Regions from separate parts of the Homo sapiens genome. Here regions 1, 2, 3, 4 and 6 are each linked to region 5. Evidence: fine-mapped expression QTL. A gene starts in region 5. Each other region holds a variant in brackets. All regions are shown on one strand. Distances are from middle to middle.

Region 1 (4,079 bases), 21 kb after region 5:
TGCACCGGACAGCAACTGCTTCCCCTCCAGGGCGGCCCCCATCGTCCCCCAGGTGCTGCAAGAGCAGTGAGACTTACCCAAGACAAGTCAGAGGCTTTGGAGCTCTCGGGGGCGGTGGCTTCTCCCAGGAGCCCCGTATCTGTCAGTCCCCCCATAAGGGGAGGGGAGTTGGCAAGGCTCCTCCTTGCTCCCAGCGTGAGGATTGCCCCTACTTTTCCGGCCCCCACTTGCCCCCTCCACCTGCCCTTTTCCCTCCGGGAAGCCCTGGAGGTTTTCCAAGAACTCTGCGGGTCGAGGGGGCAGCCTATGTGGGGTGGCGGGGGGCCTCCTGCTTGTTGGATGCCCAGACGCCTACACCTTTCACCCTGGGGTCCAGTCGGCTGATGGCCATGAGAGAGAAGCTGAGAGCAACCAGAGCCCACAGCTCCATGCTGGTCCCCCATCTGCAAACGCTGGGCCCCATGGGAGCTGTGACTCGGTTTCCAGCTCGTCACAGGGCTGGCCGAGGCCCCGGCATGTCAAGCCATCTCAGGTTGGGCAGGAATGTGGTCCGTGTTCACATGTGTCTCTGTGTGTGTGAGAGAGAGGGGTCAGCTGGGACGCTGGGGTGGCAGGGACAGTCCTGGCTCACCCCTCATCCTCCCTCGACCTCGACTCCCTCCACATGAGGAGCCCCCCCTTCCTGGCTATCCTGTGAGTTGAGCTTCCTCTGCTGGGAGGGCTTTGTCAGAGGTTCCCTGCGGTTCCAGAAGGAAAGCTGGCTGCAGGGAGGGCCGGGCACTGGACACCGTGTGGCTGAGCCTGTGGCGGGGGCTGCACAGCTGGGTTCCCAGCCCCCCTCCTTGTCCCCACCCCACCGCACTGGGAGGCCCTGCTGAGGGGCCAGAGTCCGGCTGCAGGTCCCACGGGTGGGGGTGGGGCCCCTCATTAGCACTGCAGCTGACACTGAGGGCTTCCACCTCGCTAATTGATTAAACTGTTTAGAAACCAGGCCGGCGTGGTGGGAATTGGCCCCGGCCGGGCTGTCCGCTCCCCTTCTGTGCAGGCAGCGGCCCCCGGAGTTCATCAGTCAGGCCGGTTGGTGGGGTCCCGGCCCTGGCTGCCCTCGGGAACCCTTCTTTGCTCCTTTGTGCGGTCAAAATGGTGAGGGTCCTGAGAGGAGCTGGTGAGACCCCGGGGTCCTCTCCTCCCTGACCACTCACTGGGCGAGCATGGAGGGAGGCCTACTGTGCACGGGCATGTTCCTGGGAACCTGCCTGCTGGGATTAAACCCGCCCTTGTGAAGGACGGCAGGTGGGTCACTCAATACCAGGAGGGGCACGGGGCTGTGAGCAGAGGCCCGAGAGCCTTCTGAGGCGGCACCGGGTGCTCCTGGGCCCTGCTCTCCTGGGATTTGTTGTGCCTGTGACCTCAGCCTCTTCCTTCCTCTCCTGTGGGATTCCCCCAACACCCCCTCCCCTCCTGCCATTCCTTCCCCCACCAGGCCCCATGCCTCCCCTCCCCAGTGCCCCCTACCCCCAGGTCTTCCCTCTAGGACATCAGCCTGGGCTGTGGGTCTTGGTCTCCCACAGAGACTGAGTCCTGGGAGAAGGGCAGAGCCTTGGTTCCCAGTGCAGCCCCTGTGCCAGCCTGCAGTGGGCACCGGTTCAGCCGGTGCACACTGGGTCCTGCCCCCACCTGAGGAGCGGCCTGGGGCCTGATCAGCCCTGCTGGTGTCTGGCCTGCAGCCAGCACCGGCTCTGCTATTCACACTTGGTTACAGGTGGGTGCCCATCCCAGCAGCCTCGGAGCAGAGTGGGTCGGGCTCCGGAGGTGGGGGCGGCCACTAACAGCAGGAGGTCGTGGCAGTGCGGCTATGGCAGGGGTTCTGAGGGGCGGAAG[G/C]CAGGGGCGGGACGTGGGGACGCAGACCTGCAGGGAGGACGCCGGCTCACCCAGCAGGGAGGGGATGGCCGCCCAGGGACCCCCAGCCTGCCCGCTCTGCTTCCCCGACCGCCGGGGCAGGGGCCCCACGGGGGACGCCAGGGAACGTGAGGAATCCGGAGTCAACACTGGGCCACTGTGTGCTGCCAGCCGGGCGGGCCGTGATTTATAAAGACAGCGGAGGCTTGGCTGGTGTCGGGGCGGTGAGGTCACGGCGGCCGGGGGCTCTGGAATTTCTTCAGAAGAATTTTGCTTACCAAGCCACATACTTTTCTAGCCATCAGTTTGATCAGAGGCAAGATGAAAAATATGCTAAAAAACAAAGAAACAAAAATACACCCGGGGGGCTCCGGTGAGGGGGAGGGGCGCTGCGGGAGGGGTGGAGGGCCCAGGGAAGGGTGAGGGGCCGGGAGCCACTCTGCCCGGCACTCTCCGCCCAGAAACAGCCCAACGCCCCTTTCTTTCCCCTTTTAGCACTGCTGAGCTGGACTAAAATGCCCAACAAGGAACTTTACTAAAAACTGAGGCAAGAAAGAAAACACACATGACATAAAAATAGTCAAGGGCACATTCTTGATGGTAGATAACTGGTCTCTGGCCACAGCGGCTGCCAGGTTGGGTGTCGGCCGGCGGGTCTGCCAGTCCCACCCATAGGCACTGCACTTCCCTGGGCCGGACAGGGGGTGTGGCGGGTCTGTGGGCGGGGGGACAAGGTTGGCAGGACCGTGAGGGGGGTGGTGGGTCTGTGGGAGGGGGACAAGGTTGGCAGGACCGTGAGGGGGGTGGCGGGTCTGTGGGCGGGGGGACAAGGTTGGCAGGACCGTGAGGGGGGTGGTGGGTCTGTGGGAGGGGGACAAGGGTGGCAGGACCGTGAGGGGGGTGGCGGGTCTGTGGGAGGGGGGACAAGGTTGGCAGGACCGTGAGGGGGGTGGCGGGTCTGTGGGCAGGTGGACAAGGGTGGCAGGACCTGTGAGATGATGTGAGTGCAGCACAGTGGGGCTCTGTAAGAAGCGACCCGGGCAGCTTGAGCAGGGGCAGGCTGGGCGGTGCCTACGGGTCTCTGTCCACCGGAGCCTCTGTTCAGCCCACCTCAGTGTCGCTCCGGATGTGGATAGAAGGAGACACTGTCTGGGCCACAGACCAGGTGCTTCCTTCGTCCTGACCACACCTGCTTCTGCCCAGGAGACGCTGCAGGGGCTGTGCTCCCCGCCCGGCTACTCTTGAGTGGTCCCCAGGCTCCTCCTCCTCCCGGTTCCACCTGGAGCCGTGGGGCTGTGCCGGGGATGCCTCGCTGCAGCTGCAGCTCAGGGAGAACTCACTGCTGGAGCTTCTGCCTCTCCCGTGCCGTGGGGCCGAGCCGAGCTCCACCAGGGTCTGGACTTCTGCACGGGCAGCTGTGCTTCCCAGGGTCGTGGAGAGGGGTCCTTGGTCCCAGCCACTGTGTGACCTCGACCAGGACACTTGACTTTCCTGCCCCCAGAGGGTCTTGTCTGGACCTCCAGAGCCCCCAGCCTTGCTCACTTGGCTCTGCTTCTGGGCAGGGTGCCCTGGCATTGCTGTTGCTGGCACCTGCCGTGCCTTGGAGGGGTCTCCAGTGGGACCTCTGAGCACGGCTCTTCCTGTACTTCTCAGAGGTGAGCAGAGGGCATTTGTGGGAGAACTGGAACCTGGGGAGGAAAAACCCCAAGGCTGGCAAAGACTCCCTGCAGTCTGTCCAGTGATCCACTGAGGCTGAGTGGTGGAGGACATGGAGGCCGGCCCGGGACCAGGACATGGAGGCCGGCCAGGGACCTGGGGAAGAGAGGGCCTCAGTCTGGTGAGACCAGCCTGGTGGGTGCCTGGGGAAGAGAGGGCCTCAGTCCTGTGAGACCAGCCTGGTGGGTGCCTGGGGAAGAGAGGCCCTCAGTCCGGTGAGGAGACCAGCCTGGTGGGTGCAGGCCACCCTTGCCTGCTGTCAGGGCCTGCCCTTCTCTCCGGCCTCCAGCTGCTTTGCCCCAGCGATCAGGCGCCTGAGCTTCCTCCCCCGAGCCTGAGTCCAGCTGAGCTCCGTGTGGCTTTCCCGGTGGAGCAGACTCTGTCTGATTTCCCAACGGCTGGCGCCTCCCAGGGCGTGCTCCTTGCCACGGAACAGCCCCTTGGGGCCAGGTGTGTACTCCAGG
Region 2 (4,078 bases), 25 kb before region 5:
ACGCCCCGGTCCCGGGTCACCTCTCGGAGCCGCCTCCTTGGCCCGTGGAAGCCTCCTGCTCTCCCCTAGGGCGCGCGTCACAATCTCTGGTCCCCCGTAGACGCCGCCGCGGGGAAGGCGGGGCTGTGCGAGGGCGCCGCGCTGCAAACCCAAGCCAGGCGGCCTGGAGTTGCTGTAAAGCCTCAAGCAAGGCTGATATGTAAAAGGTCGTTGCATTTCACCCGGGCTGTGGGCTGTGCTACTTGACCGGGGAGGACGAGGGGACTGCAGGGCGTCCTTTCAGACAGACGCGGTAGGGAGAGCAGGGCGTGCAGGACACTTGACGGCCCCAGGAGAGGGGTGAGGCCCTGACCCCACCGGGGTGTCATCCAGGAGGAAGGGTGCCCGGGGCGAGGTCCCCCAGGAGAAGTGCCCAGGCCTGAGGCCTTGACCCCACTGAGATGTCCCCCCAGGAGGAGGGGTGCCCGGGGTTAGCTCCCCTAGGAGGAGGGGTACCCGGGAGTGAGGCCCTGACCCCACCGCGAGGTCCCCCAGGAGGAGGGGTGCCCAGGAGTGAGGCCCTGACCCCACCAGGAGGTCCTCCAGGAGGAGGGGTGCCCAGGAGTGAGGCCCTCACCCCACCGTGAGGTCCCCCAGAAGGAGGGGTGCCCAGGAGTGAGACCCTGACCCCACCAGGAGGTCCCCCAGGAGGAGGGGTGCCCGGGAGTGAGGCCCTGACCCCACCGCGAGGTCCCCCAGGAGGAGGGGTGCCCAGGAGTGAGGCCCTGACCCCACCAGGAGGTCCCCCAGGAGGAGGGGTGCCCGGGAGTGAGGCCCTGACCCCACCGCGAGGTCCCCCAGGAGGAGGGGTGCCCAGGAGTGAGACCCTGACCCCACCAGGAGGTCCCCCAGGAGGAGGGGTGCCCGGGAGTGAGGCCCTGACCCCACCGCGAGGTCCCCCAGGAGGAGGGGTGCCCGGGAGTGAGGCCCTGACCCCACCGTGAGGTCCTCCAGGAGGAGGGGTGCCCGGGAGTGAGGCCCTGACCCCACCGTGAGGTCCCCCAGGAGAAGGGGTGCCTGGGGAAAGACATGACCTCAGTAGCTCCGGGTACCCTCCACCTTTGCCCTCATTTCCGCCTCCGCATGCAGCCTTGGGAACTGCAGGGCTGGGAACCCGGAGAAGGCGGCCGGGCTCTGGGGGAGCTCAGAGGTGGCCTTCCCTGCCAGGAACACAGGCCAGGCCCCATCCCTATCTAACCTTATACTTGAGGAGCACAGAGCGGATATCTCCAGATTTGAGTCCTGAACGCGCGGCCGGGAACCCCAGCAGTTCTGAACTTGTCAAGGGAGCAGCCTGCCATGAGGGGTCTCCCAGGCGGCTGTGAGGCCTCTGGAAACTCCCTGCTTGGAGGAGGTTGACTGGGGACAGGGCCGTGGGGGTCAATAAAAAGGACTGCTGCCATTAGCCCTGGGCTGCCTGCACACAGAGATTAAGCCCGCTTGGGATTTGTTCCAGCTGATCTGAAGTAATGAGTAATTCACAATTAATGAGCATGGCTGTAAGCAGCCCTTCCTGGACAAATCCTTGGCTGTCCAAAACTAAGATTAAATGCAAATCATTCTGTCAATTAACCGTTACAACAAAGCCAAACTTCTGTTAAGCATCACTTCATAGATGGTTTTTTTTCCCTTAAATTGCCTCCTTGTTTGCAAAGCCTGTTTTACAAGTGGACTGCTTAAGTCACATGAGTGAAAATGCAGCCTTATTTACCGTTCAGCAAAAGCTATCTGAGAATTTGCTTCCAGGGACTTCATGTTCTCCAGAGGTTGGGGTACTAGGAATCATTTCATTGTAAAGGACTCAGTAAAAAGTAGCCCTGTAGCTGCCAGAATGCGCCGTAGGCTCATGATAAGGTAGGTGGTAAGGGCCAGAGGTCAGGGGTCACAGATGGCTTCTGCCCCTCCACAGCACATGGTGTCCAGAACTGGGCTTGCCTCTCACCTTCCTTCCTGTACATTTCCTGGTGCCAGAAATTTGCTTTTCACTGACTTCCCCCTAATTCAAATTTGATTAGAATCTCCTTTTTGGGAACATTCAAAGTGCCAAGGTGCGTTTCAGAAATGCAGGGTTGCAGAGGTGGGGTCCTGAAATCCAAGGGTGGTGGGGCCTGAGATCACTGCCCTCGCAGTAGGAAGATCCTCGGGGAGAGGTCAGCAGAGGGCCCGGACAGAAGGCACTGACACTGTACCCTGGAGAGAGACAGGAAGGAGGACCTGGGGCCTCAGAGCTGGCC[G/A]GGTGGAGATCGTGTGGTCTTCGTTCAGAGGGAAGTGAGGTGCTGATGAAAGATGATTGACGTCACGTGGGCACCAGCAGAGGAAGTGACACAAAACGCCCCACAGCTTTGGGTTCACTGAGTGGGCAGTTGTATTTATTTATTTTATTTTATTTTTGTAGAGATGGGGTCTTGCTGTTGCCCAGACTGGTCTCGAGCTCTTGGCCTCCCAAACTGCTGGGATTACAAGTGAGAGCCATTGCAGATAGCCAGTTTTCTTTATTTTTAATTGTTGTTTGTGCAAAAGGTTTTGGCGAATACTGGCTATATTCAGAGGACTCAGTACCAGTTGCCAGGGGCCTGGAGTAGGTGCTGTGGTCTCAATGTGTGTGTCCCCCCAAACCATATGTTGACACCTAACCCCCAAGGCGATGTGGTTAGGAGATGGAGCTTTAAGGAGGTGACTGGGCCGTGAGGGCTGTCCTCTCATGACGGACGAGTGCCCTTCAACGAGACTTGAAGGAGCCCTTCTGTCCCTTCCTCCACGTGAGGACACATAGAAGGTACCATCTCTGGGGAACAGGCTGTCACCAAACACCAAGTCTGCTGGCGCCTGGATCCTGGACTTCTCAGCCTCTACAACTGTGTGCAATACATTTCTACTGTTTATCAATCACATGGTCAGAGGTATTTTGTTACAGCAGCACAAATGGACCAAGACATCAGGTCTCCAAATCGAAGAACTTCTCAGCAGCCTTCAGTGCTGGGTGGGGAGACAGAGGTTCCCTGCAGGTCCCCACAGACAGTGTTAGACTCAGTGCTGGGTGGGGAGACAGAGGTTCCCTGCAGGTCCGCACGGACGGTGTTAGACTCGGTGCTGGGTGGGGAGACAGAGGTTCCCTGCAGGTCCGCACGGACGGTGTTAGACTCGGTGCTGGGTGGGGAGACAGAGGTTCCCTGCAGGTCCGCACGGACGGTGTTAGACTCGGTGCTGGGTGGGGAGACAGAGGTTCCCTGCAGGTCCCCACGGACAGTGTTAGACTCGGTGCTGGGTGGGGAGGTTCCCAGCAGGTCCGCACGGACGGTGTTAGACTCGGTGCTGGGTGGGGAGGTTCCCTGCAGGTCCGCACGGACGGTGTTAGACTCGGTGCTGGGTGGGTTGACAGAGGTTCCCTGCAGGTCCGCACGGACGGTGTTAGACTGGGTGCTGGGTGGGGAGGTTCCCTGCAGGTCCGCACGGACGGTGTTAAACTCGGTGCTGGGTGGGGAGGTTCCCTGCAGGTCCGCACGGACGGTGTTAGACTCGGTGCTGGGTGGGGAGACAGGTTCCCTGCAGGTCCCCACAGACAGTGTTAGACTCGGTGCTGGGTGGGGAGGTTCCCTGCAGGTCCGCACGGACGGTGTTAGACTCGGTGCTGGGTGGGGAGACAGAGGTTCCCTGCAGGTCCCCACAGACAGTGTTAGACTCGGTGCTGGGTGGGGAGGTTCCCTGCAGGTCCGCACGGACGGTGTTAGACTCGGTGCTGGGTGGGGAGACAGAGGTTCCCTGCAGGTCCGCACGGACGGTGTTAGACTCAGTGCTGGGTGGGGAGACAGAGGTTCCCTGCAGGTCCGCACAGATGGTGTTAGACTCGGTGCTGGGTGGGGAGACAGAGGTTCCCTGCAGGTCCGCACGGACGGTGTTAGACTTGGGGGACACTGGGTCCCCAGTAAGAATGATTCTGATGTGAGTGCAGCTAGTGAGGGCTGAGTTCAAGCTTTAAAGACAAGAGCCCAACAGGTTCCTTCAACAGCCTGATCCCCTAGACCTTCGTGTGTCCAAGTCT
Region 3 (4,086 bases), 31 kb before region 5:
AGCCAGAAATTCTACACCAAGGAATATACCCAAAGGATCTGAAAACCAGTGTTCAAACAACAACTGTACACAAATGTTCAGACTGTCATCATTCACAGTATCAAAGGGTAGAACAACTCAAATGTCCACTGCCTGACAAACAGACACACAAAACATGGTACTTATGTACAACTGCATATCATCCTCCCAGAAAAAGGAACGGAGCACGATACATGCCACAGCACAGAGGAACGTTAAAACGTTATGCTAAATGAAGCCGGTTACAAAAGAGCACGTGGAACCTGACTCCATTCACATGAAATGTCCAGAACAGGCAAATCTACAGAGACAGAAAGCAGGCGAGTGGTTGCCAGGGTTGGAAGAGCCTGCGTGCCACCGCAGAATACCCCAGACTGGGTGGCAGAAGGGGCTTCTCACAGTTCTGGAGCCTGGGAAATCCAAGAGTAACGCTCCAGCAGATTCAGTGTCTAGTGAGGGCCCCTTCCTGGCTCACAGAGGTGCCTTCTCCCTGTGTTCTTACAGAGCAGGAGGGGTGAGGGAGCTCTGAGCGGCCTCTTTTATAAGGGCACTAATCTCATTGGTGAGGCCCCACCCTCATGTCCTAATCACCTCCCAAAGTCCCCACCTAATGTCATCCTAATACTATCACCCTGGGGGTTCCAAATATGAATCTCGGGGTGGGCACAGACATTCAGATCATAGTAATAAATCCCTACCAAAGAATAAGAAACTTAGGTCTATAATCAATCCTTATCAAAGAAAAAGAAATTTAGGTCTATAATAAATCCCTACCAAAGAATAAGAAACTTAGGTCTATAATAAATCCCTACCAAAGAATAAGAAATTTAGGTCTATAATAAATCCCTACCAAAGAATAAGAAACTTAGGTCTATAATCAATCCTTATCAAAGAACAAGAAATTTAAGTCTATAATAAATCCCTACCAAAGAATAAGAAACTTAGGTCTATAATCAATCCTTATCAAAGAACAAGAAATTTAGGTCTATAATAAATCCCTACCAAAGAATAAGAAACTTAGGTCTATAATAAATCCCTACCAAAGAATAAGAAATTTAGGTCTACAATAAATCCCTACCAAAGAATAAGAAACTTAGGTCTATAATAAATCCTACCAAAGAATAAGAAATTTAGGTCTATAATAAATCCTTACCAAAGAATAAGAAATTTAGGTCTATAATAAATCCTACCAAACAATAAAAAATTTTAGGTCTACTAAGGTTCTTTCTTTTCTTTCTTTTTCTCTTTCTTTCATTTTCTCTCCCTCTCCTTTCTTCCTTCTTTCCTTCCTTCCTTCCTCTCTTTCTCTCTCTCTTTCTCTTTTTTGAGATGGAGTCTTGCTCTGTCACCCCAGCTGGAGTGCAGTGGCACGATCTCGGTTCACTGCAACCTCTGCCTCCCGGGTTCAAGCAATTATCATGCTTCAGCCTCCCAAGTAGTTGGGATTACAGGCGTGTGCCACTACGCCCGGCTAATTTTTGTATTTTTTGGTAAAGATGGGGTTTCACCATGTTGGCCACGCTGGTCTTGAACTCTTGACCTCAA[A/G]GGATCCGCCTGCCTTGGCCTCCCATAGTGCTGGGATTACAGGTGTGAGCCACCACACCTGGCCTCTACTAGGTTCTTAATAAGTGGTATATCCAATTACCACCAGGATACTTTTTGTCAGTATTTGAACAACATGAAACTGTTTCGGTACGTAAGTTGATAAGAAACCACGAATTATAGTTTAATAAACTAAGCATGTTTACTTACCGCCTCTAGGAGAGGGAGAATCGTGCCCCCCAATGATCACGTGGACACCAGAATCTTCCAGCTTCACTCTCCATTTTTCAATGATAGCCCCAGACTTGTCCTGAAAGCAGAACACTGGCAGGTCAGGAAACTTCCCTCCGAACAGTCAACCGTTGCTTACACTGGGGCTGAGTCACCCGACAGGAAGTTCCTACAAACCTTACTGGCATCATTGAAAACAGACAGCTCCATGGTACCTTCAAAGTCCTGTTGCAAAACAGACCTCAAACATTCGTCCAGCCACGGTTCAGCGTTGTGGACTGGGAGGATAATAGACTGGAATTCAAAAGAAATGGATTAACAGAAGTGTGAAAACTTAGTTCCCTTTCCATGGCTCTAATTTACCTCCCCTTCACCACCCGCACATATGCCGTGACAAACAAAAGGTGTCCACTCCTTTTCTCCAGGCTCTTAACATGCTTGTAAGATTCTTTACGTCTTAGCTTTCCCTGAACTGCCTTCTACATGTTTTTGAAAGTGAAAAAAAAACTGAAAGGACTTTGGGAGGCCGAGGTGGGTGGATTACAAGGTCAGGAGATTGAGACCATCCTGGCTAACATGGTGAAACCCCATCTCTACTAAAAATACAAAAAATTAGCCAGGCGTGGTGGCAGGCTCCTGTAGTCCCAGCTACTCGGGAAGCTGAGGCGGGAGAATGGCGTGAACCCGGGAGGCGGAGCTTGCAGTGAGCTGAGATTGCACCACTGCACTCCAGCCTGGGTGACAGAGCAAGACTCTGTCTCAAAAAAACAAAACAAAACAAAACAAAAAAACTGAAAGGCATCAAATTGTTCCCAACTCAATGGTAAATCATGAGTTTTCCAATCACTGATCAGAAACATCATTTTGGTTGAAACAAGTATCTGGGTATCTTCCAACTCACTCATGAAAATAACTGGTTGGTTTTTTTTTTTTTTTTCTGAGATGGAGTCTCGCTCTGTCACCCAGGCTGGAGTGCAGTGGCTCGATCTCGGCTCACTGCAAGCTCTGCCTCCCGGGTTCACGCCATTCTCCTGCCTCAGCCTCCCGAGTAGCTGGGATTACAGGTGCTGGCTGGTCATGTTCTAGGTGGAATAAGCATTTCGGCAAACCATGTTAGAAAACCTGCAACAAAGTAACCCCTTTAAGTAACCCCTCAGCCCACAAAAAACAATGTTTTAACAAAGTATCGGGCAGGAGGTGTTCAAAGAACCCAGCTGAGCAAATGGGAGGCCTGACGTCCATCTCTCGATTCCTTTGTCCTACACTTCGTTTCGGGCTAGTGTAGCTAGTGTCCTTTTCTCATTGTCCTTTTCTCATGAAGCCCAAAACAAAAATTTATAAAGTGGGATGGAGTAAAACCAGGAAATTCAATGCCAACAAAACAACTGATTACAGGAGTTAAGTCTTAATTTCATACATTATAATATTAAGTGATACGGAGCGATACTTAAGAGATTAGTCTGTCCTCACCCTTAATTTATATCCAAAAAAGAAAAGTTGAAATTGTGTTGAAAACACAATTTAGTCAAGTTCTTTACAAATGAAACCTCACTCTGTCTCTTCCTGGACTTAGGTTAATAAGAATAAAACGAGTTCTGGCCGGGCGCGGTAGCTCACGCCTGTAATCACAGCAGTTTGGGAGGCCGAGGCGGGCAGATCATCTGATGTCGGGAGTTCAAGACCAGCCTGACCAACATGGAGAAACCCCGTCCCTACTAAAAATACAAAATTACCCTGGTGTGGTGGTGCATGCCTGTAATCCCAGCTACTCGGGAGGCTGAGGCAGGAGAAACGCTTGAACCCGGGAGGCAGAGGTTGCGGTGAGCCGAGCTCGCGCCATTGTACTCCAGCCTGGGCAACGAGTGTGAAACTCCATTTCAAAAAATAAAAATTAAAAAAAAAATAAAACGAGTTCCCTAATTTATTTACAAATTTACCTTAGTTTGGATTTACTTAGAGGAAAAGAAGGAAATAATTTTTCTCAAGATCTACAAAATATAATGTTTCTATCAAAGATAGACCTTGATTCACCTGTTACCAATTTTAGTAAGACTGGAATAAAAAAGAAAAAAGGCTGGAAAAAAAACAAACAAAAAAACAAAAAACAGAAAACATGCTGAGCCTTTGGGCGACTGCTAATCCTACATCCCTGTGGTTGTTCCCTGCATCGGCCTATTGGCTGGGTCTGAACCCTGAGGGCCTTTGCTCCAGCCTCTGCCGGAGCACGGGGAAGGTGTTCGGGGCTTAAGGGCAGGTTTTTAGGGCACGTGTTTGGGGTAAGTGTGCTGGGCACAC
Region 4 (4,072 bases), 37 kb before region 5:
CACTGAGACACCCCGCAGGTGAGCCTGTGATTTTGTGAGTCTCACAGATCTGAACAGGACCCAACAGAGGACTTAACTCCCCAGGCTCTCACATGGGGACATTCCAGAGGGACCGTAAACCCTCAGCCGCTTGCCCTTGAAATACGTCATAGCTGTAAGACTCCCTCAGGACCAAGTCCACTAGAAAGTGGGGTGATGCCACCCATTCCTGAGCACATTCTAAAGCAGTGGCTCCTGATCCTGGATGTGTCTCAGAATCTTCTGGAAAGCTTTTAAAATCCCAATGCCCACGCTGCACCCCAGACCAATTACATGAGAATATCTTAGGGTGAGACTCAGGCACTGGTTTTCTAAAACTCACTGATGATTCTAACGTGCACAAAGTTGACGACCATTATCTTAGAGAAGCTGTGACTCCTAAAATCTGTAGGAACCCGTCCACCAACTAAAAACGTATCATCTGCCAACCTTGACTTTTTCAGCCCCATGCAATATAGGCAGGCATATTTTTTTCAAGTCTTATATGGAAACTTTAAAGTCAAACTAAAAGGACCCTGATCTATTACAATCAAAGCTAAGAACACAAGCTAATCATTCAACATAAAAACAGAGGGTGAATGAAGAAACCTGAACACAGCTTGACCCAGCATCATGAAATTTCAAAATTCAAAAGTACAAAAAGAAAAATCTTAAATACTTTGAGAAACAATACCTTTAAAATAACAAGAGTCAGACTGGTGTAAGATTTCTTATTAGAAACATGGACACTAGAATATAATGAGGCAATCCCTTTAAAATTCTAAGAAAAATTATTTTGCACCTAGAATTCTATACCCAGCCAATCTGTCAACTGAGCATAAAAATATTCTTGAGCAAGAGAAATAAGCAGAAAAAAAGTTTGAAAAAATAATGGCTGAGGCTGGGCACAGTGGCTCATGCCTGTAATCCCAGCACTTTGGGAGGCCGAGGCAGGCGGATCACAAGGTCAGGAGATCGAGAACATCCTGGCCAACACGGTGAAACCCCATCTCTACTAAAAAATACAAAAAATTAGCTGGGTGTGGTGGAGGGTGCCTGTAGTCCCAGCTACTTGGGAGGCTGAGGCAGGAGAATGGCGTGAACTTGGGAGGCAGAGCTTGCAGTGAGCCAAGATCATGCCACTGCACTCCAGGCTGGGTGACAGAGCGAGACTCCATCTCAAAAAAAAAAAAAAAAAATGGCTGAAAAATTCTCAAATTACTAAAATTTTACTGGAGGAGCTCAAGAGTATATTTAAATATGCAGAAGAAAAATTAGCAAACACAGAGATAGATGGGTAAGTCTGAATCTGAAAATGGAGACAAAGAAGAATGAAGAAAGTGAAAAGCATCTCAGAGAAAGCTGGAATACCAATAACTATACCAACATATGCACAATGCAAGTACCACACGGAAAGGCAAGAGAAATAAGCAGAAAAAAAGTTTGAAAAAATAATGGCTGAAAAATTCTCATATTATTGAAAAACATTCATCTACACATCCAGGAAGCTCAACAAACTCCATGTAGGATAAACACAGAAGATTCGCAGCTAAACACATCATAGTAAAAATGCTGAAACCAAAGATAAGGACAAAATATTGAAAGCGACAAGAGAAAATCACTTGTCACTTACAAGAGACCCTCAGTAAGATTAACCGCTTACTTCTCATCAGAAACAATGAAGGCCACAGGCAATGGGGTCACACACAGATGCTCCTCAACTGAGGGTGAGCCTATGTCTAGGTAAACCTGCTGTAAGTTTAAAACATCATAAGTCAAAAATGCTTGGGGGCCTGGGAGCTGTGACTCATGGCCACTGCCTGGTATCCTGACAGAACCATGGTTTCTACTGAATTTGTGTTGCCTTTGACCATCATAAAGTTGAAACATGGTAAGTTGAACTATCACAGGCTGGGGGCCATCTGTATTCATAGTGCTCAAAGAAAAACACTGTCAATTATGAATCCTATATCCAGCAAAGTCATCTTTCAAAAATGAAGAAGCAAGTAAGA[G/C]ATTCTAAGATAAACAAAAACTGAGGCAGTTCATTGTAGGGCTGAAATGAAAGGGCACTAAACAGGAACTCATAGAGAAAGAACAAATGAAGAACAGGGATAAAGTTTACTATTCAGGTAAATATAAAAGATAGTACTATTTTGGTTTGTATTTTTCCTATATGCTTTTAAAACAAATACAGAAAACAAGCCAGGTGCTGTGGCTCATGCCTATAATCCCCACACTTTGGGAGGCCAAGGTGGGTGGATCACTTGAGTCCAGGAATTCGAGACCAGCCTGGGCAACAGGACAAAACCCCCTCTCTACCAAAAATACAAAACTTACGCAGGCGTGCTGGCAGGCACCTGTATTCCCAGCTACCTGGGAGGCTGAGGCACAAGAATCACTTGAACCTACTGGGTGGAGGTTGCAGTGAACCAAGATCACGCCACTGCGCTCCAGCCTGGGTGATGGAGTGAGCCCCTGCCCCCTACTGCCACACACACACCAGGAAACAATTATAAATCTAAATCTACATTCATGAAAATAATTTATGAATTTATGTTAATGTTACATGATTGAAGCTAAGTGTTAATTCAAACTACATTGTTATAAATTTAAGATGTTCACCGTAATCCTCACAGTAACCACTAAGACGATCATTTAGAAATACACAGAAAAGGAAACGAGAAGGGAATCAAAATGGCACATCGGAAATAAGCAATTAAACAGAAAAGAAGGTAGTAATACAGGATTGAGGAATAAAAAAGACATAAGACATATAGAAAGCAGATAGCAAAGTGGCAAAAGTCCTTCCTTGTCAGTAATCACTTTAAATGTAAATGGACTAAATTCTCCAATTAAAAGGCAAAATCTGGCAGAACGGATCTTGAAAATTATGATCCATCTAAATGCTGTCTATATGAGGAATTCACTTCAGATCCAAAGGCACAAGTAGGCTGAAAGTGGAACAAGGGAAAGAGATATTCCACGCAACTAGTAATCAAAGAGTGCTGGCGTGGCTGTACTAATATCAGAAAAAATAGACTTCAACTCAAAAATTATTAGAAAAGACAAAGAAAGAGTCAATTGATCAAGAAGATATAACAAGCATAAAACTGTACACATCTAACAAGAGGGTCACAAAATTAAGTAAGGCAAAGATTGACTGAATTGGAGGGAGAAACAGTTCTACCGTAACAGTCGGAGATTCAACATTCTACCTTCAATAATGGAGAGAACATCTAGAGAGAAGATAATAAACAGAGAACTTGAACAATACTATAAACCAACTAGACTTAGCAGAAATATACAGAATACTCCACTTGACAGCAGCAGAACACACATTCTCAGGTGTGCACAGCGCATTCTCCAGGACAGGTGACACGTCCGGCCATAAAATGTACCTTAAACATTTGTTTAAAGATTGCAATTATATGAAGTATCTTCTCTGACCACAGTGAAATGAAACTAGAAATAAGTAACAGAAGTAAAACTGAAAAATTCATAAATAAATGAAAGCTAAACCATATACTCTTCAGCAACCAATATGTCAAAGAAGAAATCATAAGGCTAATTAGAATATACTCAGAGACAAACGAAAACAAAAACACAACAAACCAAAACTTTCAGGATGTAGAAAAATCAGTGCATAGAAAGGAATTTATAGCTATAAATGCCTACATAAAAGAGGTCTAAAATCAAGAACCTAAAAGTACACCTTAAGAAGCTAGAAAAAGAAAAATAAACTAAACACACAGCTAGCAGAAGGAAGGAAACAGTGAAGATTAGAGTGAAAATAAACAAACAATGACAAAACAATAGCAAATCAACAAAAAGAGTTGATTCTTTGAAGAGGGTCAACAAAATTGACAAACCCAGCTAGACTGAGAAAGAAGGAAAGACAGCTCAAAATGCTGAAATAAAAAGTGGTACATGACTCCCAAACTTAACAGAAACTAAAAGGATTATGACAGTGTGAAAAACAACATATGCCAAAAAAGTTAGATAACCTAGATGAAATGGACAAATTCCTAGAAACAAACTACCAAAATTGACTCAA
Region 5 (4,080 bases):
ATTAGCAGACTTAATGTTTTAGGTTTACAGAAACACCAAGCAGATGGTAGAGGTCCCCCACACACCCTCTCCCTGACCCAGTTTCTCTTATGATTACCTTCTCTCATTAGGGTGTAGGCGTGTGACAGTCAAAGAACCAATATTGATCCGTTATTATTACAAATGTCTCAAGCCTCCATCAGGATTCACTCTTGTGCTGTATTTTCTACGGGTTTTGAAAAGTACACGTGGGTCCCATACTCACCATCGTACGATCCCAGTCTTAGGACAGCCCGCTGGGCACAGGAGGCTGGGCATCCTGCCAGGTGGCAGATCTCTGCCCCAGCCTAGGCTGGAACCAGCTGCCTGCTGACCAGAGGCGGCCTCTCCCCTTCGGTCTAGCAGCCACCAGGGGCTCTGAGACCCTGAGCAGGTCACGGCAGGTCCTGAGTTCCCCATGTCCGCATCTATAACTCAAGAGATCCCAGCACTGCCCTGCCTCTTCCGTGGTGTGATGATCTGGACCCTGATAGGCCATGTGGCCCTTCAAGGGTGGACCGGGCCTGGGGGGGCTGCTATCTTATGCTTGGTGGGCATGGAAAGCAGTTGCTGCGCACAGGTGTGAAGCCGCAGGTCCCTTTCCACAGCAGGTCCCTTTCCACAGCAGGTCCCTTTCCACTGGGCACCCTGGTACCTGCAGTGATGGGGGTGGGGGGAGGTGCACTCCTAGAGCAGACGGGGGTGGGTGGGGCAGTCTCCAAGCTCCGAAATGCACCTCCACCAGACCTTGAGCCTCAGGGTGATGTCACTTGATGTGCTGGGCAAGGTCCTGGCTCCAGGCTTTCGATGGGGTGGGTGCTCTGAACAGATCCTTACAATGAAACTACCTTCAGTGGTCACTGTCATCGCCTTCCAGTTCTTCAGACCCTCACCCTTGTCCCAGCTTTCCTGGGCTGGGGGCTGGGCTCCACCTGCCTTTGCCGGTGACTTCCGTCCCTGCAGACTCACAATTTTCAAAGCCCTCTCCCCGCCTCCTCTGGTAGTCACAACCCAGTTATTCAGACTTGCACAGGTCGTTCGCAAGTCCTCCTGGAAGGTATCTTGGCTGGAAAAGGGGACAAGGCCAAGCTTCCCCACCGCTGGATGCTGCGCTCGGCTCTGGAACTGACACCAGGCGTCTCGGGCAGGGCCACTGACCCGCAGCACACAGAAGCCAGCTTTGCCATCGCAGCGGGGACCGCCGGGCGGGCCAGCTCCGCCCTCTCCTGCCTGGGGGGCCCTCGGCACCCTCTGGCTCCCCTTCTCTGGCCTGAGTCTCTAGGGCCTCCCCAGTCCGGGCGGGGGTCTCCGCTGTCCCCCCCACTGGGTCAGGCACGTGGTGGCCGCGGTGACCACCTGGGGAAGGCGCCGACTCCGAGGAACACACTCGAGCAGGACGCTCCGCAGGTGATTCTGCCCCGCGGGCACGGGGTGGGGGCGGGATTTGGCCAAATCTGCAGAGAGTTTAGGTTGTCAAAGCTGGGGCGGGGGTTGCTACTGATACCCAGAGTGCGGGGGCCAGGGTGCTGCCAACATCCCACCATGCGCAGGACGTCCCCACCCCAAGAACCACCCGGCCCCGCGTATCCGGAGCGAGGAGTGGGCAGCGCTCGGCAGAGGCCCCGGCGCGGCGGCTGCACGTCCTCCGGGAGGAGGGAGGGAAGCCGGGCTCACCGCCGGGCCTCCCCCCCGGTCAGGAGGGAGCCGGGAACTCCCGAGGCACCAACTCTGCGGAACGCGGGGCGCCCGGATCGCCCCTGATCACCGCCCGCTGGCGAGGCGCGGGGGACCCAGAACCGGCGGGGCCGGGAGCCTCCTTTACCGCTCCGCGCCGGGGCTGCCCGCAGGATGGGGCGCAGGATGGGGCGCAGGATGCGGCCCCGGCACCGCCTCGCGGGGGTCTGCGGGGGGCGACCGCGGCTCGCGTCGGCCACTACTTGGGGGTCTCGGGTTTCCGCCCCGCCCTCGCCTTGCAACCCCTCCGGCCCCGGACTCCGCTTTCCAGGCCGGGCTCTTCCCTCCGGACCCCGCTCGCCGCCCGGCGCGGCCCCCTCCTCCTGCAGCGCCCCCCGCCCCGGCGCCCGCGCCCCCGATTCGCTGCTGACTCGGTGTCTGCGCGTCCGGCCGGGCGCCCCGGGAGGAGTTTCCGGCGCGGGGCGGGGTCGGGGGCGGGGTCGGGGGCGGGGCGGGGCGGCGGGTGGGCCCCACCCCCCAGCTGAGCCCGGCCGGGCGGACTCGGACTCGCCAACTTCAGAGGCTCGGCGGCGGCGGCGGGCGCGGAGCTCTGCGCGCGGCTCCAGCGGGCCGGGATGGGCGGGCGGCCGCGCGGAGGACGCGGGGGGCGCGCGACGTGACCACCCGGACTCGAAGCCCGCCCCGCCCCCGCCCGGCTCGCCGGCTCCGGGGTCTGCTCCGGGGGTCGCGGACGCGGGGCCGGGCGGCGGAGCCGGCGCCAGAGCATGCGGGGCGCGGCGCGGGCGGCCTGGGGGCGCGCGGGGCAGCCGTGGCCGCGACCCCCCGCCCCGGGCCCGCCCCCGCCGCCGCTCCCGCTGCTGCTCCTGCTCCTGGCCGGGCTGCTGGGCGGCGCGGGCGCGCAGTACTCCAGCGACCGGTGCAGCTGGAAGGGGAGGTGAGTGTGCGCGGCGCGACCCCGGCCCGGCCCCCTCCCCTCGCGTCCCCTCCCGTCCCGGGCCGGCCGAGCGTGCGGGGGCGCGGCCGGGGGCGGGCGCGGGGCAGGGGCTCCGGGGGCCGCTCTCCAGGCCCAGTCCGGTGCCCGCTGTCCCCCGCCCCCGGTTCTAGAACAAAAGAGCCCGCGGCGTCCCGGTTCCCGGCCCGGAGGACGCCCGGGGGAGGCGCGCCTGCAGCGCGGCCGGGTGGGTCCCGGCTCCGCGCGTGTCCGAGCCTCGGGGGCCGCCGGTCCCGCGACCCCATCCCGGGGGCAGGCGGGGGTCGGTCCTCGGGCCCTTCCTGGCAGGCTCCGGGAGTTGCGCGCCCCGAGGCCGCCCCGGGCCAGAGCGGGAAGGGACGGCCGCGGGAGGGAGCGGCGGTTTCGGGGATCGGGCGCGGACCGCAGCGGGGGCCACTTCCGTCTCGGGGAGCCGCGGGCGGGCACCTGTGAGCCGGGCCGAGTGTGGCTCCGGCCGGGCCCCCCGCCCCTGCCCCGTGAAGGTCAGGCCGCCCTTGGCCGCGGCGCGCGCTGCGCTGGGCGACCCCCCCCCCCCCCACCCGCGGTGGCGGCCGAGGACTTTTTTTTTTTTTTTTTTTTTTTGACTCAAGCGTGGCCGCCGAGAGCGGCGCCGACCGCGACTGCCCCTCGGGAGCCGCCGCCGCTCCCACGCGAAGCCCAGGGCGCCGAGGGCACCGCGGCCGAACCCGCCCTGCGCGAGCCTCGCAGTCGCCAGTTCCGGGGTTCGCAGATGCGCGGGGACCCGAGTGACGCGCGCCTCCCGGAGAGCCGTGGCCGGGCTGGCCCGGGCCTGGGTCCCGCTTCCCCTCGGCGCGGCCCCCGCCCCCGCCCCCGCCCCCGCCGCGGGCCGAGTCACGCGGTGATGTCGAGCGAAGCTGTTTTCCGAGAAGGTCGGGGCAGAGCCGGTGCGGGGCGGGTGGTGTCCGCGGGGCGGGCGCAGGTCTCCCCGCAGCCGCAGCCTCCGTTCCGGGTCCCCGCGAAGCCACAGTCGCCCCCCAGCGCCCCCGGCGGAGCCTCCCCGGGGGAAGGGGCGTGGCGCTGGGGGGCAGAGTCGCCCCGAGGGCCGTGGGCGGTGCCCGGCTGTCCCGGGAGCGGCCGCCTCCCTTCTCGGCCGAGCGGGGCCGCGGGCGGATGGAGGTCTGGGGGGGGTCGGCCGGGAACGCCGGCGCCGGGAGCCTCCGAGGCCGACGGCTCTTCTGGGGCCGCCCCTGCCCCCGCGGAGTGATTCAGCCCCGGCTCGCTGCCTCTGCCCGGCGGGTCGGTGCATCCCCGAACCGAGGCCCGGGGCGTTCCGCTCCAGCAGACCGAAGCCAGAAACGCCGCCCCCGCCACCCAGGCCGAGTGTGTCGAGAAGGGGCCGGCGCCCTTTTCAGGGT
Region 6 (4,086 bases), 120 kb after region 5:
CGCAGGTTCCCATATGTCCCATCAGGGAGCTGGGCTCCAAAGTCTCCCGCCCTGCTTCTCCTAGAGAATGCAAAGGCTGCCTCTCTTCCCTCCCAGTGTAACCTGACCCTCCTCTGTGCCCCTTGGCCACCCTTGCATCCTCTAGCTCCTTCTGACACCTTCTTTTTGACTGTTCACAGAGGGCAGGATCTGAAGCCTGCAGAGGTGACCCTTGGTGCCTTGTGCAAGGCTGGCCAGCAAGTAAGCATGACTTTTGGCTCTGCTGCCAGCTGGGCCATTTGATCTACACACACTTTTCTGCCTCTACCTGGAGTTAGGCGAGGCTCTCTATAGAATGGGTACTTGTCAACAAAGTGGGCTTAGACTCCGGGCAGTAGCAGTTGAGGCAGGAGCAGTGGGAGAAGTCTGGGCTAATGGCAAGCACCCAGTCCCCTCTGTGAGCTGCCCACTTGTCCCAGGCTCTGCCATGGCCCTTCCTCTGATTTTTAGGAGCTTTCATGAGGCCTCGCACAGCCTGAAGGAGCAGAGCTTGTTGTGCTAATCCCCAGCATCCTCTGCAGAGTTCTCAACACCTTGTGGCCGAAAGGTCCTTCAGATTGTCCAGGCACCCACCCCGAAAACCAGCCCTGGCATGGGGGTGCTGACCCCTCCCGGAGCAGTGGGGTGCAGGGCTCATAAGGCGGGGTCTGCAAAGCATGCTGGGGTCTTGCTCTGTGCTTACTCCAAGGATGCAGCCCGGAGTGCCACTGCTCTTGGACTTTCCTTGAGACACCCAGAGCATTGTGTGGCCATCACTTCTCACGTGGTCTGGCTGCTTGGGGGGCTGGCCTGAGTCAGCTAGGGCCAGTGCTCACCTTATCCTAATCACCTACTGGGGGATTTTGTAGGCTTGACCCTCCATGCCCTGGTGTTTCCCACAGGCTGTGAGGTTCTAGGGTGTCCCAGGGAGGATAGACGAGGCTGGTGTCCTAGGATCCCTCCCTGTCCGATCCAAGGTGAGGCTGCCAGGGAATGGAATCTGGCTCTCAGGCATGGGGGCCAGGCTCGCCTGCAGCCTCAATGTGGCTGGGCCCTGAAGGCCAGGGGTGGGTGGGGTGCAGCCCAGAGCTTTCTGCGGCTGAATCACCCTCTGGGTACAGGAAGCCTGACCGCATGACTTCCAAACTGATGCAACTCGGACTTTCTACTGAATTTGTGAGCTGTGATACTATTGCTTCTGAAGTCAAAGAGGGCTCAGAGGGTTCACGGAGCATTCCCTTTCAATGACGATCGGCCTCTCTGGAATATCTCCAGTGTCAGCAGGGATGGTGTCAGGGTTCTCCTAGCAAGAAGTCATAAGGAATGGAAGGGCTGAGAAAAATGAGGGTTAGAGTGACACCATGTCAGTCCCCCTGGCTAGCCTCTGCCAGCTGGACAAGCTGGGGCCTCCTCTCCACCTTGACTGGCCTGTGCCGGGGGAGGGAGCCAAGGGCAGGACCCTCTTGCACCTCTACCCTGGGCCTGGTCCATTCTCGCTCCTGGGACCTCCCCAGAGACCTCCGCAGCACACCCCACCAGCACAGTGAGCAGCACGGAGAGACCCAGACCGAAGTGGCCATGTGCTCCATGTGAGGGCTCCGTAGGAAGCAAGGATGTACAAGTGGCTCCTTT[T/C]CCCTTCCTAGGGGTCCCTTGCAGGGCTGGGACCCCACTCTAGGCGAGGCCTCTGGGCAAGGATGACCGTCCCTGCCTGCCTCTGGGAAAGAGTAAGTTCCTGCTCCTGGTGTCAGCGCCGACTGGTTCTCCAGGGACCACGGCGGAGGTCTGCCCTCTGTCTTACTTTCTCATAGAGATTTTCCGTGGGACCTGGGCTCCCTGCCTGGTTAGGGCTGGTTGAAGAATAAGTGGGAACGGTGGAGGAAGGAAGGGGATGTGCCAGCTGTTGCTCTGGCCCTTTCGTGTGGATATGAATCCCTGGTGAGAGGCAGATCCTGCGGTCAGTGCGGAGCCCACCACATTCCCCCAGGAGGGTGTGTCCGGGGCTGTGTATGGGGGGAAGCTGGGCAAACAGGGTCATGCCGTGAATGCAGGGGCAGGAGCAGGGACGTTTCTCTCTGCAGACACTGGTGCTCCCCAAAGCAGGAGAAATGGCACACAGCCATGTTGTGGACACATTTGTGAGAAAATTCCTCTGAATGTCAGAGAACATGGAAGAGATGAAGCTACCAGCTTAGAGAGACACAGGAACACATACTACAGACACACAGCACGCACATACCCAGACACACCCAGACACACTCACCAGACACACAGACTCACACAGAGAACACACCACGTCACACACAGAGATTCACAAAGAACCACATCACACACGTTTTCACCCACAGAGAGAACATACCCACATCATACCCATGTGCTGACACACAAGAGCATAAACTCACACACACATACATGAACTCACACCGAGAACACAGGCATCACACACAGGGACTCACGCACAGAGGGCATGTGGACACTACACACATGTTCTCACACAGCACACGCCCCGTCACACCCATGAACTCACACCGAGAACACAACATCACACACAGGGACTCACGCACAGAGGACATGTGGACACTACACACATGTTCTCACACAGCACACGCCCCGTCACACCCATGAACTCACACCGAGAACACAACATCACACACAGGGACTCACGCACAGAGGACATGTGGACACTACACACATGTTCTCACACAGCACGCCCCGTCACACCCATGAACTCACACCCAGAACACAACATCACACACAGGGACTCACGCACAGAGGACATGTGGACACTACACACATGTTCTCACACAGAACACACCCCGTCACACCCACACCCCCACATGCGTAGACACACACATCCTTACTCTGCGCGCATCCCTGGCCTGGTGGACGGAAGATCGAGCGCTCTGGGTGGACTTACGGCCACAGGACGGGGGCAGAGTCGGCAGGGAGGCCCCTCCGAGGCCCAGTGGGCCCTGCGCTGGCCCCGGCCGCAGACGCCCACCTGCTGTGCTGGCTGCGGCGTGTGCCCCGGGGTCTGTGGCTGACCTGGCCTCCACGTCTCACCCATGAAGCAGGCATGAGAGGCTGGCCAGGTTGGCTAAATGGGACCACAGCAGAAGCACAAGCCCCAGAATGTGCACGAAGGAAGAGAGAGCCGGGGGAGGTGGCGGGCTGGGTGTGCAGAGTGGGCCTGAGCTCCGGCCTCCTCCCTGGACGCCCTCCCGTGGCCGCAGCCATCCCTGCACCCACTGATGTGGCCTGACCCCTCACCCTGAGCCCACCCTTCGCGGCCACTAGGGAACCTCAGGAGAGGCCGCCGCGGTGGGGTGGGCGGATTCCCCCGGAGCAGGCCCAGGCCCCTGCTTCTGAGCGCTCCTGCAGCGCCGCCTGCTGGCCACAGAGAACCCGCGTGTGCCGGCCGCCAGGCCTGGGCATCTCCTCTCCTGCAGCGCCGCCTGCTGGCCACAGAGAACCCACGTGCGCCGGCCGCCAGGCCTGGGCATCTCCTCTCCTGCAGCGCCGCCTGCTGGCCACAGAGAACCCACGTGTGCCGGCCGCCAGGCCTGGGCATCTCCTCTCCTGCAGCGCCGCCTGCTGGCCACAGAGAACCCACGTGCGCCGGCCGCCAGGCCTGGGCATCTCCCCTCCTGCAGCGCCGCCTGCTGGCCACAGAGAACCCACGTGTGCCGGCCGCCAGGCCTGGGCATCTCCTCTCCTGCAGCGCCGCCTGCTGGCCACAGAGAACCCGCGTGCGCCGGCCGCCAGGCCTGGGCATCTCCCCTCCTGCAGCGCCGCCTGCTGGCCACAGAGAACCCACGTACGCCAGCCGCCAGGCCTGGGCATCTCCCCGGGCCCTAGTTCCCCCCCTCACCTAAGGGGAGGGACTCCCGTCTTTCCATCCACCCCCTCCTTGCCTCTGCAGAGCTCCAGGGAAGGCTGGCACCCGCTCACTGCATTTAGACTCCATCAGGTTCAGACAGTGGGTCAGGGTACAAGGCTTCAGCGGCCAGGGATGTGGCCTCTAATTTGTAGAGAGAAAGAAGGGCAGAGGTAGGTAGGTAGATATATGAT

What was found.
Region 1: its variant is fine-mapped to the expression of METRNL in whole blood (TOPMed, PIP above 0.99).
Region 2: its variant is fine-mapped to the expression of METRNL in whole blood (TOPMed, PIP above 0.99).
Region 3: its variant is fine-mapped to the expression of METRNL in whole blood (INTERVAL, PIP 0.96).
Region 4: its variant is fine-mapped to the expression of METRNL in whole blood (TOPMed, PIP 0.98).
Region 6: its variant is fine-mapped to the expression of METRNL in whole blood (TOPMed, PIP 0.92).

The regions. Positions count from the first base shown.
Region 1 is chr17:83,097,996-83,102,074 of GRCh38, forward strand. No RefSeq gene overlaps it. Among named protein-coding and RNA genes, the nearest start is that of METRNL, 20 kb to the left of the region's middle. RefSeq lists an enhancer at 428-1,424. The variant G/C (reference allele first, on the strand shown) is at 1,882.
Region 2 is chr17:83,051,983-83,056,060 of GRCh38, forward strand. All of the region lies in intron 1 of LOC124904094, which reads left to right. Among named protein-coding and RNA genes, the nearest start is that of QTGAL, 2.3 kb to the left of the region's middle. The variant G/A (reference allele first, on the strand shown) is at 2,274.
Region 3 is chr17:83,046,701-83,050,786 of GRCh38, forward strand. QTGAL (queuosine-tRNA galactosyltransferase) reads right to left here. Exons shown (of 13, transcript NM_001009905.3): 2 at 1,969-2,085; 3 at 1,771-1,870. Among named protein-coding and RNA genes, the nearest start is that of QTGAL, 3.0 kb to the right of the region's middle. The variant A/G (reference allele first, on the strand shown) is at 1,564.
Region 4 is chr17:83,039,867-83,043,938 of GRCh38, forward strand. All of the region lies in intron 3 of QTGAL (queuosine-tRNA galactosyltransferase), which reads right to left. Among named protein-coding and RNA genes, the nearest start is that of QTGAL, 9.9 kb to the right of the region's middle. The variant G/C (reference allele first, on the strand shown) is at 2,031.
Region 5 is chr17:83,077,339-83,081,418 of GRCh38, forward strand. It overlaps METRNL (meteorin like, glial cell differentiation regulator), which reads left to right and starts at 2,271. Exons shown (of 4, transcript NM_001004431.3): 1 at 2,271-2,647. The coding sequence starts at 2,478.
Region 6 is chr17:83,202,120-83,206,205 of GRCh38, forward strand. The region is part of intron 2 of LOC101929650 (a long non-coding RNA gene); the gene reads left to right. Among named protein-coding and RNA genes, the nearest start is that of METRNL, 120 kb to the left of the region's middle. RefSeq lists a silencer at 3,330-3,489. The variant T/C (reference allele first, on the strand shown) is at 1,651.